2 separate regions of the Homo sapiens genome follow, and region 2 is linked to region 1. Evidence: fine-mapped expression QTL. Tissue or cell type: lymphoblastoid cells. Region 1 holds a variant in brackets; the other region holds the start of a gene. All regions are shown on one strand. Distances are between the middles of the regions.

What was found. PIP is the estimated chance that this variant, and not a neighbour inherited with it, causes the effect.
Region 2: it holds the start of TCTN3, and the variant in region 1 is fine-mapped to the expression of TCTN3 in lymphoblastoid cells (GTEx, PIP 0.93).

Annotation. Positions count from the first base shown.
Region 1 is chr10:95,717,036-95,722,419 of GRCh38, reverse strand. It overlaps a transcript of ENTPD1 not described here. Among named protein-coding and RNA genes, the nearest start is that of TCTN3, 26 kb to the right of the region's middle. The variant T/C (reference allele first, on the strand shown) is at 2,703.
Region 2 is chr10:95,691,623-95,697,006 of GRCh38, reverse strand. TCTN3 (tectonic family member 3) reads left to right here and starts at 3,080. Exons shown (of 14, transcript NM_015631.6): 1 at 3,080-3,363; 2 at 3,531-3,654; 3 at 3,969-4,087. The coding sequence starts at 3,108. It also overlaps a transcript of ENTPD1 not described here. RefSeq lists enhancers at 2,120-2,621, 3,096-3,375.

The sequences.
Region 1 (5,384 bases):
CAGTCTATCATTGTTGGACATTTGGGTGGGTGCAGCACACCAGCATGGCACATGTATACATATGTAACTAACCTGCACATTGTGCACATGTACCCTAAAACTTAAAGTATAATAATAATAAATAAAAAATTAAAAAATTAAAAAAAAACAAAAAAACAATGAACTTGGGATAATAAAAAAAAAACCACAATGGGTATTCAGTAATTGATAGGGAGACTCTTGTGGAAGCAGAGTTAGGAGAATTGCCTAATAATTGGTTTGCTGAAATGTTCGAGCTGTTTTCACTCAGCCAAGTCTTAAAGCACTTATAGAATCAAAAAAATCTATCTCAATCCTGACTCAAAATGTTACCTACACCCTCTCTGACACAAATTTGCATAAGAACTGTTTTATTTATTGGAATGTATCTTGATGGGGCAACTGGGTTGTTATGAAATACTCAGGAACCCAGCCCAGCTCTACAACTCACCCCTGAGCACAAAGGCAATGTTGGGCATGCTGGTAAAGGACCACTAGAATACAGCAGCCTGGACCCTTTTCTTTGTGGTCAAGAAAGGCGGGAAAAGGGGTGCAGGACTGCTACTTGGTAAGCGTAACTAACCCGATAAGCAGAGGTCCATGGGTAGTTACGCACCCTGGAAAGCAATAAGCATTAGGACCATAGAAGACGCTCTAGCACTAATGCTCATCAGAGAATGACTAGGGGTGATGGCATCCCGGTTTTTTTTTTTTCAGATAGGAAACATTACCCCTAAGGCAAAAACGCCCCTAAGATGTATTCTGGAGAATTCGGCCCAGTCAGAGTGTATGTACCTTTTTCCCTGTCAGACTTAAAGCAAATTAAAATAGACCTAGGTAAATTCTCAAATAACCCTGATGGCTATATTGATGTTTTACAAGGGTTAGGACAATCCTTTAATCTGACATGGAGAAATATAATGTTACTGCTAAATCAGACACTAACCCCAAATGAGAGAAGTGCCACCATAACTGCAGCCTGAGAGTTTGGCGATCTCTGGTATCTCAGTCAGGTCAATGATAGGATGACAACAGAGGAAAGAGAATGATTCCCCACAGGCCAGCAGGCAGTTCCCAGTGTAAACCCTCATTGGGATGCAGAATCAGAACATGGAGATTGGTGCCACAGACATTTGCTAACTTATGTGCTAGTAGGACTAGGGAAACCTAGGAGGAAGCCTATAAATTATTCAATGATGTCCACTATAACACAGGGAAAGGAAGAAAATCCTACTGCCTTTCTGGAGAGACTAAGGGAGGCACTGAGGAAGCATACCTCTCTGTCACCTGACTCTATTGAAGGCCAACTAGTCTTAAAGGATAAGTTTATCAGTCAGTCAGCTGCAGACATAAAAAAAAACACTTCAAAAGTCCGCCTTAGGCATGGAGCAAAACTTAAAAAACCCTATTGAACTTGGCAACCTCGGTTTTTTATAATAGAGATCAGGAGGAGCAGGTGGAACTGGACTAACGAGATAAGAAAAAGGCCACCGCTTTAGTCATGGCCCTCAGGCAAGCGGACTTTGGAGGCTCTGGAACACAGAAAGGCTGAGCAAATCGAATGCCTAATAGGGCTTGCTTCCAGTGTGGTCTACAAGGACACTTTAAAGCAGATTGTCCAAATAGAAATAAGCTGCCCCCTCGTCCATGCCCCTTATGTCAAGGGAATCACTGGAAGGCCCACTGCCCCAGGGGACGAAGGTCCTCTGAGTCAGAAGCCACTAACCAGATGATCCAGCAGCAGGAATGAGGGTGCCTGTGGCAAGCACCAGCCCATGCCATCACCCTCACAGAGCCCCGGGTATGTTTGACCATTGAGGGCCAGGAGGTTAACTGTCTCCTGGACACTGGCACGGCCTTCTCAGTCTTACTCTCTTGTCCCGGAAAACTGTCCTCCAGATCTGTCACTATCCGAGGGGTCCTAGGACAGCCAGTCACTAGATATTTCTCCCAACCACTAAGTTGTGACTGGGGAACATTACTCTTTCACATGCTTTTCTAATTATGCCTGAAAGCCCCACTCCCCTGTTAGGGAGAGACATTCTAGCAAAAGCAGCGGCCATTATACACCTGAACACAGGAAAAGAACACCCATTTGTTGCCCTCTGCTTGAGGAAGGAATTAATCCTGAAGTCTGGGCAACAGACGGACAATATGGACGAGCAAAGAATGCCTGTTCTGTTCAAGTTAAACTAAAGGATTCTGCCTCCTTTCCCTACCAAAGGCAGTACCCCCTTACACCCGAGGCCCAACAAGGACTCCAAAAGATTGTTAAGAAACTAAAAGCCCAAGGCCTAGTAAAACCATGCAATAGCCCCTGCAATACTCCAATTTTAGGAGTACAGAAACCCAATGGACAGTGGAGGTTAGGGCAAGATCTCAGGATTATCAGTGAGGCCATTGTCCCTCCATACCCAGCTGTACCTAACCCTTATACTCTGCTTTCCCAAATACCAGAGGAAGCAGAGTGGTTTACAGTCCTGGACCTTAAGGATGCCTTTTTCTGCATCCCTGTACATCCTGACTCTCAATTCTTGTTTGCCTTTGAAGATCCTTCGAACCCAATGTCTCAACTCACCTGGACTGTTTTACCCCAAGGGTTCAGGGATAGCCCCCATCTATTTGGCCAAGCATTAGCCCAAGACTTGAGTCAATTCTCATACCTGGACACTCTTGTCCTTTGG[T/C]ACGTGGATGATTTACTTTTAGCCGCCCGTTCAGAAACCTTGTGCCATCAAGCCACCCAAACGCTCTTAAATTTCCTCGCCACCTGTGGCTACAAGGTTTCCAAACCAAAGGCTCAGCTCTGCTCACAGCAGGTTAAATACGTAGGGCTAAAATTATCCAAAGGCACCAGGGCCTTCAGTAAGGAACGTATCCAGCCTATACTGGCTTATCCTCATCCCAAAACCCTAAAGCAACTACGAGGGTTCCTTGGCATAACACGCTTCTGCCAAATATGGATTCCCAGGTACGGCAAAATAGCCAGGCTATTATATACACTAATTAAGGAAACTCAGAAAGCCAATACCCATTTAGTAAGAAGGACACCTGAAGCAGAAGCGGCTTTCCAGGCCCTAAAGAAGGCCCTAACCGAAGCCCCAGTATTAAGCTTGCCAACGGAGCGAGACTTTTCTTTATATGTCACAGAAAAAAGAGGAATAGCTCTAGGAATCCTTACACAGGTCCGAGAGACCAGCTTGCAACCCATGGCTTACCTAAGTAAGGAAATTGATGTAGTGGCAAAAGGTTGGCCTCATTGTTTACGGGTAGTGGTGGCAGTAGCAGTCTTAGTATCTGAAGCAGTTAAAATAATACAGGGAAGAGATCTTACCGTGTGGACATCTCATGATGTGAACAGCATACTCACTGCTAAAGGAGACTTGTGGCTGTCAGGCAACCATTTGCTTAAATAACAGGCTCTATTACTTAAAGGGCCAGTGCTGCAACTGCACACTTGTGCAACTCTTAACTGAGCCACATTTCTTCCAAATAATAAAGAAAAGATAGAACATAACTGTCAACAGGTGATTGCTCAAACCTATGCCACTCGAGGGGACCTTCTAGAGGTTCCCTTAACTGATCCCAACCTCAACTTGTATACTAATGGAAGTTCCTTTGTAGAAAAAGGACTTCGAAAAGTGGGGTATGCAGTGGTCAGTAATAATGGAATACTTGAAAGTAATCCCCTCGCTCCAGGAACTAGTGCTCAGCTGGCAGAACTAATAGCCCTCACTCGGGCACTAGAATTAGAAGAAGGAAAAAGGGTAAATATATATACAGACTCTAAGTATGCTCACCTAGTTCTCCATGCCCACACAGCAATATGGAGAGAAAGGAAATTCCTAACTTCCGAGGGAACACCTATCAAACATCAGGAAGCCATTAGGAGATTATTCTTGGCTGTACAGAGAAACCTAAAGAGGTGGCAGTCTTACACTGCTGGGGTCACCAGAAAGGAAAGGAAAGGGAAATAGAAGGGAACCACCAAGAGGATATTGAAGCCAGAAGAGCTGCAAGGCAGGACCCCCTCCATTAGAAATGCTTATAGAAGGACCCCTAGTATGGGGTAATCCCCTCCAGGAAACCAAGCCCCAGTACTCAGCAGAAGACATAGAATGGGGAACCTCACAAGGACATAGTTTCCTCCCCTCAGGATGGCTAGCCACCGAAGAAGGAAAAATACTTTTGCCTGCAGCTAACCAGTGGAAATTACTTAAAACCCTTCACCCAAAACTTTCACTCTCACTGCACCTCCTCCATGCCACTGTACTACCAGTAGCTCCCCTTACCAAGAGCTTCCATGGAGAATGCAGCTTCCTGGAAATATTGATGCCCCATCATATAGGAGTTTTTCTAAAGGAAACCCCACTTTCACCGCCCACACCCATATATGCCCCTGCACTTCAGGCCATACATTTCAATCCCTGTATGTTTAAGCTCCTTGTTAAGTTTGCCTCTTCCAGAATCGAAGCTGTAAAATTACAAATCGTTCTTCAAATGGAGCCCCAGATGCTGTCCATGACTGAGATCTACTGCAGACCCCTGGACCGGCCTGCTAGCCCATGCTCTGATGTTAATGGCATTGAAGGCACCCCTCCTGAGGAAATCTCAACTGCACGACCCCTATCATGCCCCAATTCAGCAGGAAGCAGTTAAGAGCGGTTGTCGGCCAACCTCCCCAACAGCACTTGGGTTTTCCCGTTGAGAGGGGGTACTGAGAGACAGGACTAGCTGGATTTCCTAGGCCGACTAAGAATTCCTAAACCTAGCTGGGAAAGGTGACCACACCCACCTTTAAACACGGGGCTTGCAACTCAGCTCACACCTGACCAATCAGGTAGTAAAGAGGGCTCGCTAGAATACAAATTAGGCTAAAGCAGGAGGTAAAGAAAGAGTCAAATCATATATCACCTGAGAGCACAGGTGGAGGGACAATGATCAGGACATAAACCCAGGCATTTGAGCAGGGAGCGGCAACCCCCTTTGGGTCCCCTCCCATTTTATGGGAGCTCTGTTTTCACTCTATTAAATCTTGCAACTGCAAAAAAAAAAAAAAAAAAAAAACCCTGCAGATCCAAGAACCTCAATGAACAATGTGTGTAAGATAAACACAAAGAGAACCACATCTAGGTAGCTAGGCGAATTGCTGAAAACAAATTTAAAAGGTGAAGGATTTGGGATTGTAGCTTACTTAAAGCTTACAGTTATCCTGACACTGTCCCATGGAAACAGGCAGAAGACACAAGATTCCTGCATCATAAACAAAAGACTTTATTACTCACAGAACAGCAAGAAGAATGCACATCAACATATTTGCCTAAGTTCCTTATGCCTAAATCCCACACGGCCCATGCCTACCCACACAG
Region 2 (5,384 bases), 25 kb after region 1:
CACCTTCATGTATTTCAATTCTGGGCATGTTCATGTATGCACAAGTGTGTGTGTATCTAAGTTTTCTGTAATTTTCAGAGATTTTTGGAAAAGGGGGGAGAAGTGGGAAAAGGACAGAACTTGTTGTCTGCCATCTCAGTACAATCTCCTTGCTAAATTTCCAATTACATATTAAACTCTTTTAATCCCAAACACAGACAACTGCTAGTATCATATGATCTAATTTGGAAATCTCTGCTTCTGAGATGATATTATATGATCTCAATTTAAGACTTGGTCCCCATACTAAACCTGACATCTGCATGACACATGTGAATAAATTTCATTCTTCATCCACAAAATTATCTTTCAGATTTTAATACTGGATCTCAAAAGTATTGAGAGTTCTATATTACAGAGATTCTTACAAATACAAAACAGCAATACATGCCAGGCACGGTGGCTCATGCCTGTAATCCCAACACTTCGGGAGGCTGAGGCAGGCAGATCACTTGAGGTCAGGAGTTTGAGACCAGCTTAGCCAACATGGTGAAACTCCGTCTCTACTACAAATGCAAAAATTAGCTGGGTGTGGTGGGTACACCTGTAGTCCCAGCTACTAGGGAGGCTGAGGCAGGAAAGTTGCTTGAACCTGGGAGGTGGAGGTTGCAGTGAGCCAAGATGGCGCCACTGCACTCCAGCCTGGGTGACAGGGCAAGACTCTCTCAAATAAGTTAATTAATTAATTAATTAAATCAATAAATAAAACAAGTTTAAAAAACAGCAATACAAATAATCTTTTTGCTTAACTATAACAAAAGAGAAAAAAATAACTTTTCTAAAAAAAAGTTGTGTTAAAATTCAAAAATAAGAAAAAGCAACTCAAAAAGATCCGGAAACATTACTTCCTTATCACTCATCTCTAAAATTACTTCAACCAACAGTCTTTTGCCAACGCTAATAAATTCAGAAATAATTTAACACTATTTGAGAGTTGCCATTTAAATTCCAAACTTTGAAATCTAAAATAGTCTCTGATCAGATGTACAATGGAAATTTTATAGAAAGATCATTACATGGTAAATTGGTTGCAAAAAGAAGAAATTTTATAGAAAGAAATACAATCCTGAAATAAAATAAACTAAAAATATTCCTAAGGATTAATTCTAAAGAGTTCAACAAAACAATTTTTAATATATTTTTAAAATATTTAATGCACATCTAACATGTCCCAGACACTGTTCTAGGCATGGGGATATTTCAATGAACAAAACAGACAAAACTCACTATTTTTGGAATTTACATTCTAGTATATACATATGATCATATAATCTGAATAATATGAACTTGGCCTTTTCCTATAGAAATTACTAATAAGGTAAATAAATGTTTTAAGACCAAACACATATCTCCCATAGCTGTCTATCACACAACAACATAAAAACATATTTGAAAATATTTATAACACAGAGAGACTTTTAGCTACTGACTTCAAAACATTAGAAAATAAAGATCTTGTAAGAGAATTCAAGTAAAGTCAAATGTCCTAAAACTTACCTGAGTTAAATGATTCACTTGTAAAGGGAGGTGTTGACCAGATTTTAGGTAAGTGTACTAGATTTTAGATAACTCTTAACAGATGTTAATTTATATACTAAAACTAAATATCCAAAATAATCCAGATGTCAGAACCGTGGACATAGGAAAATACTGGGTCTAGGAGGAGCAATATTTTGATCATCTACAGTCCCACTGTACAATATGGTAGCTACTCACGTCTGTGGTTAACTTTGAATTAATTACAATTTAAAAATTAAAAATTCAGGCCAGGCACAGCGACTCACAGCTGTAATCCCAGCACTTTAGGAGGCCAAGGCGGGAGGGTCACTTGAGGTCAGGAATTCGAGACCAGCCTGGACAACATGGTGAAACCCCATCTCTACTAAAAATAAAAATAAAATTAGCCGGGCGTGGTGGCGCGTGCCTGTCATCCCAGCTACTCAGGAGGCTGAAACAGAAGAATCACCTGAATCCTAGAGGCAGAGGTTGCAGTGAGCTGAGATCACACCACTGCACTCCAGCCTGAGCGACAGAGCGAAACACCGTCTCAAAAAAAAAAAAAAAAAAAAAAATCAGCTCCTCAGTCACGCTAGCCACATTTCAAGCGCACAATTGCCACATAAGGCCGGTGACTACCATGCTGGACAGTGCAGCTACGGTACATTTCCAATACCGAAGGAAAGTCCCATGGCCCGCGCTGCTGTGGGGAATCGGAAGAGGCACGCCATTCCCGGGAAGAACAAAAACCTCCTAGAGAGGCTTAAAAAATTTGCCATTAACACGGGGAAAAAAATCTTCTATTTCCATTCCTCCATCTTATTTTCTCACCTCCTAGACAATGTTTCTTTTTTTTATTCTTTCTCTCCCTATTTTCTCACATTTTTCCTGCCCTTTTTTCTTATTTTTCTCTCACTGCTTTTTCTAACAACAAACATGCAGTCCATCTTTAATGATTTGATGCATTTCTTTAGGGTTTTCAAAATTTCTCAATGTTAAAATGTAAGGAGCTGAATGAACATTATTTCTAATGTGTTTTTTTTTTTTTTAAAAAAGCCATATTTAGAGGAGACTGTTTTTTAAGGTATGTGACCTTAGGTGTGTTTCCCCCACCTGAGAACATTATTCTTCCATAGAAAGGGTTTCTCACCGTTGGAATCCGGGGTGAAAAAAAATTTGCAATTCTAGTTCCGGCCTCTGGGGTTTCCTTGCACCGGAGGCCGGGCTCAGTCCTCTGGGCCGCGAAGTGGGCGCGGAACCTCTCGGTCCGCCGAACTCCTACCGCCACCTAGCGGAAGGAAGGCGCAAGGGCTTCTTCGTCACTGACGGTTGCCAGGCAACGGAGGCACGGCCCGGCCCGCGTTAAGGAGGAGGGCGCAGACCGAAGGACACTGAAAGAGCTGTAACAACCCCACTTTCGATTGGTTGAAGAGCTCTCAGCCTTCTCATGAGCCAATGAGAAGAGGCACGCGGATGGCGTCAGACGCTATGCGACTCCTCCCACCCACGCTCTGGCAATGCGATTGGAGACCGCGGAGGCCTACGTCGGACCCGGAGGCCCTGAATGCCCCATGCGCACCCCACAGCTCGCGCTCCTGCAAGTGTTCTTTCTGGTGTTCCCCGATGGCGTCCGGCCTCAGCCCTCTTCCTCCCCATCAGGGGCAGTGCCCACGTCTTTGGAGCTGCAGCGAGGGACGGATGGCGGAACCCTCCAGTCCCCTTCAGAGGCGACTGCAACTCGCCCGGCCGTGCCTGGACTCCCTACAGTGGTCCCTACTCTCGTGACTCCCTCGGCCCCTGGGAATAGGACTGTGGACCTCTTCCCAGGTGAGGGAAAACGTTGTGGGGGTGGAAACTTACTTCTGAGATCTAAAATTCTGTGAGCAAAGTTGAGCTGCCACAAAGCAGGAGTGGGGCTGTCGGAAGAAGGAGGGTGAGCACCTGGGAGAGTTTGGGGATCTTCATCCCACTCACTCTGTGTCGTACTTTCATAGTCTTACCGATCTGTGTCTGTGACTTGACTCCTGGAGCCTGCGATATAAATTGCTGCTGCGACAGGGACTGCTATCTTCTCCATCCGAGGACAGTTTTCTCCTTCTGCCTTCCAGGCAGCGTAAGGTGAGCTTCGTTGCTCAGACTGAATCCTAAAGGGGTTTGGGGCCTACAACGGGTAACATTTGGATGTAAGAAGAGTTAGTCTTTGTGCCTCCCACCCGTACTTCCACTCCTAGGACATTCCCTTGGTTTTTCCTAGGAATTGCCTTTTCTGATTCTCTAGAGCAGGGCTGGCCAGTAGAATAAGACCTTCGTGTCGTCCTATAGGTGCCCAAGGAGTCCTCTTTGGCATCATCTGGCCGATATTGCTGGGACACTCTTTTTTGGACCTGCCCCGCCCCTTCTAAATATATCTTCTCCCTCCTCTTTCCTCACAGGTCTTCAAGCTGGGTTTGTGTAGACAACTCTGTTATCTTCAGGAGTAATTCCCCGTTTCCTTCAAGAGTTTTCATGGATTCTAATGGAATCAGGCAGTTTTGTGTCCATGTGAACAACTGTGAGTAGAAACATGTTGGTTGTTCTCATTTTCTAACACAGGAGTGTTATATTTTGTCTTCCCTGGCCCACATTGGAAGAAGAATTGTCTTGGGCCACACGTAAAATACACTAACGATAGCTGATGAGTTAAAAACAACAACAAAAAAAAAGCAAAAAAAATGTCAAATGTTTTAAGAAAGTTTACAAATTTGTGTTGTTGGGCTGCATTCATAAGCCGTCCTGGGCTGCATGCGGCCGGTGGGTTGCAGGTTGGACAAGCTTGGTCTAACATTTATTGAGAATTGGCTTTTATTCTGGCCTTTTTTCCATTTCTTTTTTTTAAACTTTTTTTTTTTTTGTCCTTTGAATCTCTACGCCTCTTTCTGCCTCTTCTCTCTTATTACGGAATACATTTGCATTTTTGTTTTTTTTTGAGACGGAGCCTCCACCTATCGCCAGGAGTGCAGTGCAGTGGCACGATCTCAGCTCACTGCAACCTCCACCTCCCGGATTAAAGTGATTCTCCTGCCTTAGCTTCCCGAGTAGCTGGGACTATGGGTGTGTGCCACCATGACCAGCTAATTTTTGTATTTTTAGTAGAGACGGGGTTTTGCAATGTTGGCCAGGATGGTCTTGATCTCTTGACCTCATGGGCCACCCACCTCGACCCCCAAAGTGCTGGGATTACAGGTGTGAGCCACCGCGCCTGGCCACATTTGCAACTTTTTATGTTCTGTTGGCTATGGATCAGAAAACTCATAAAGAACTTTAATTTCAATCATTTTAATCATTCCTCTTAACTCAGATAATCACAGATAGACTATATTCCCCACTTACTACAATCTCCATGAGGGTACTAACTGAATCCCCAGTGCCTAACACATAGTAAGCACCAAATAATGTTTGAATGAACATCTTTGACAAATGAGTCTATGCCAACCTTATTTTCATTTCATGAGGCAACAGTGTAGGAGGAGCATTAGATTAGGATCTCAGTCCTGCCATTTCCTTACCAGCTATACAGACTTGGGCAAATCCCTTAGCATTTCCAGGCTCGTTTCTTCAACTGTAAAGTGAGAAATAATATCATTGGCTTTGTATATGAAAGCGCTCTACAACTGTAGAGTACAATAAAGATTAGAGGTTATTATTATTGGGGATGGTTAGTGGACTTAGAAATTTGCTGGTGATGGCTATAACATTTCTAAAGATATGAAGCTAATCTATCTTTTTAAAATGTCTATGAAGCAAAATAATGTTCCTGCACAAAATGGATTTAAATGTCTCTTGCATCCTGGAAGTCACCTCATCCTGAT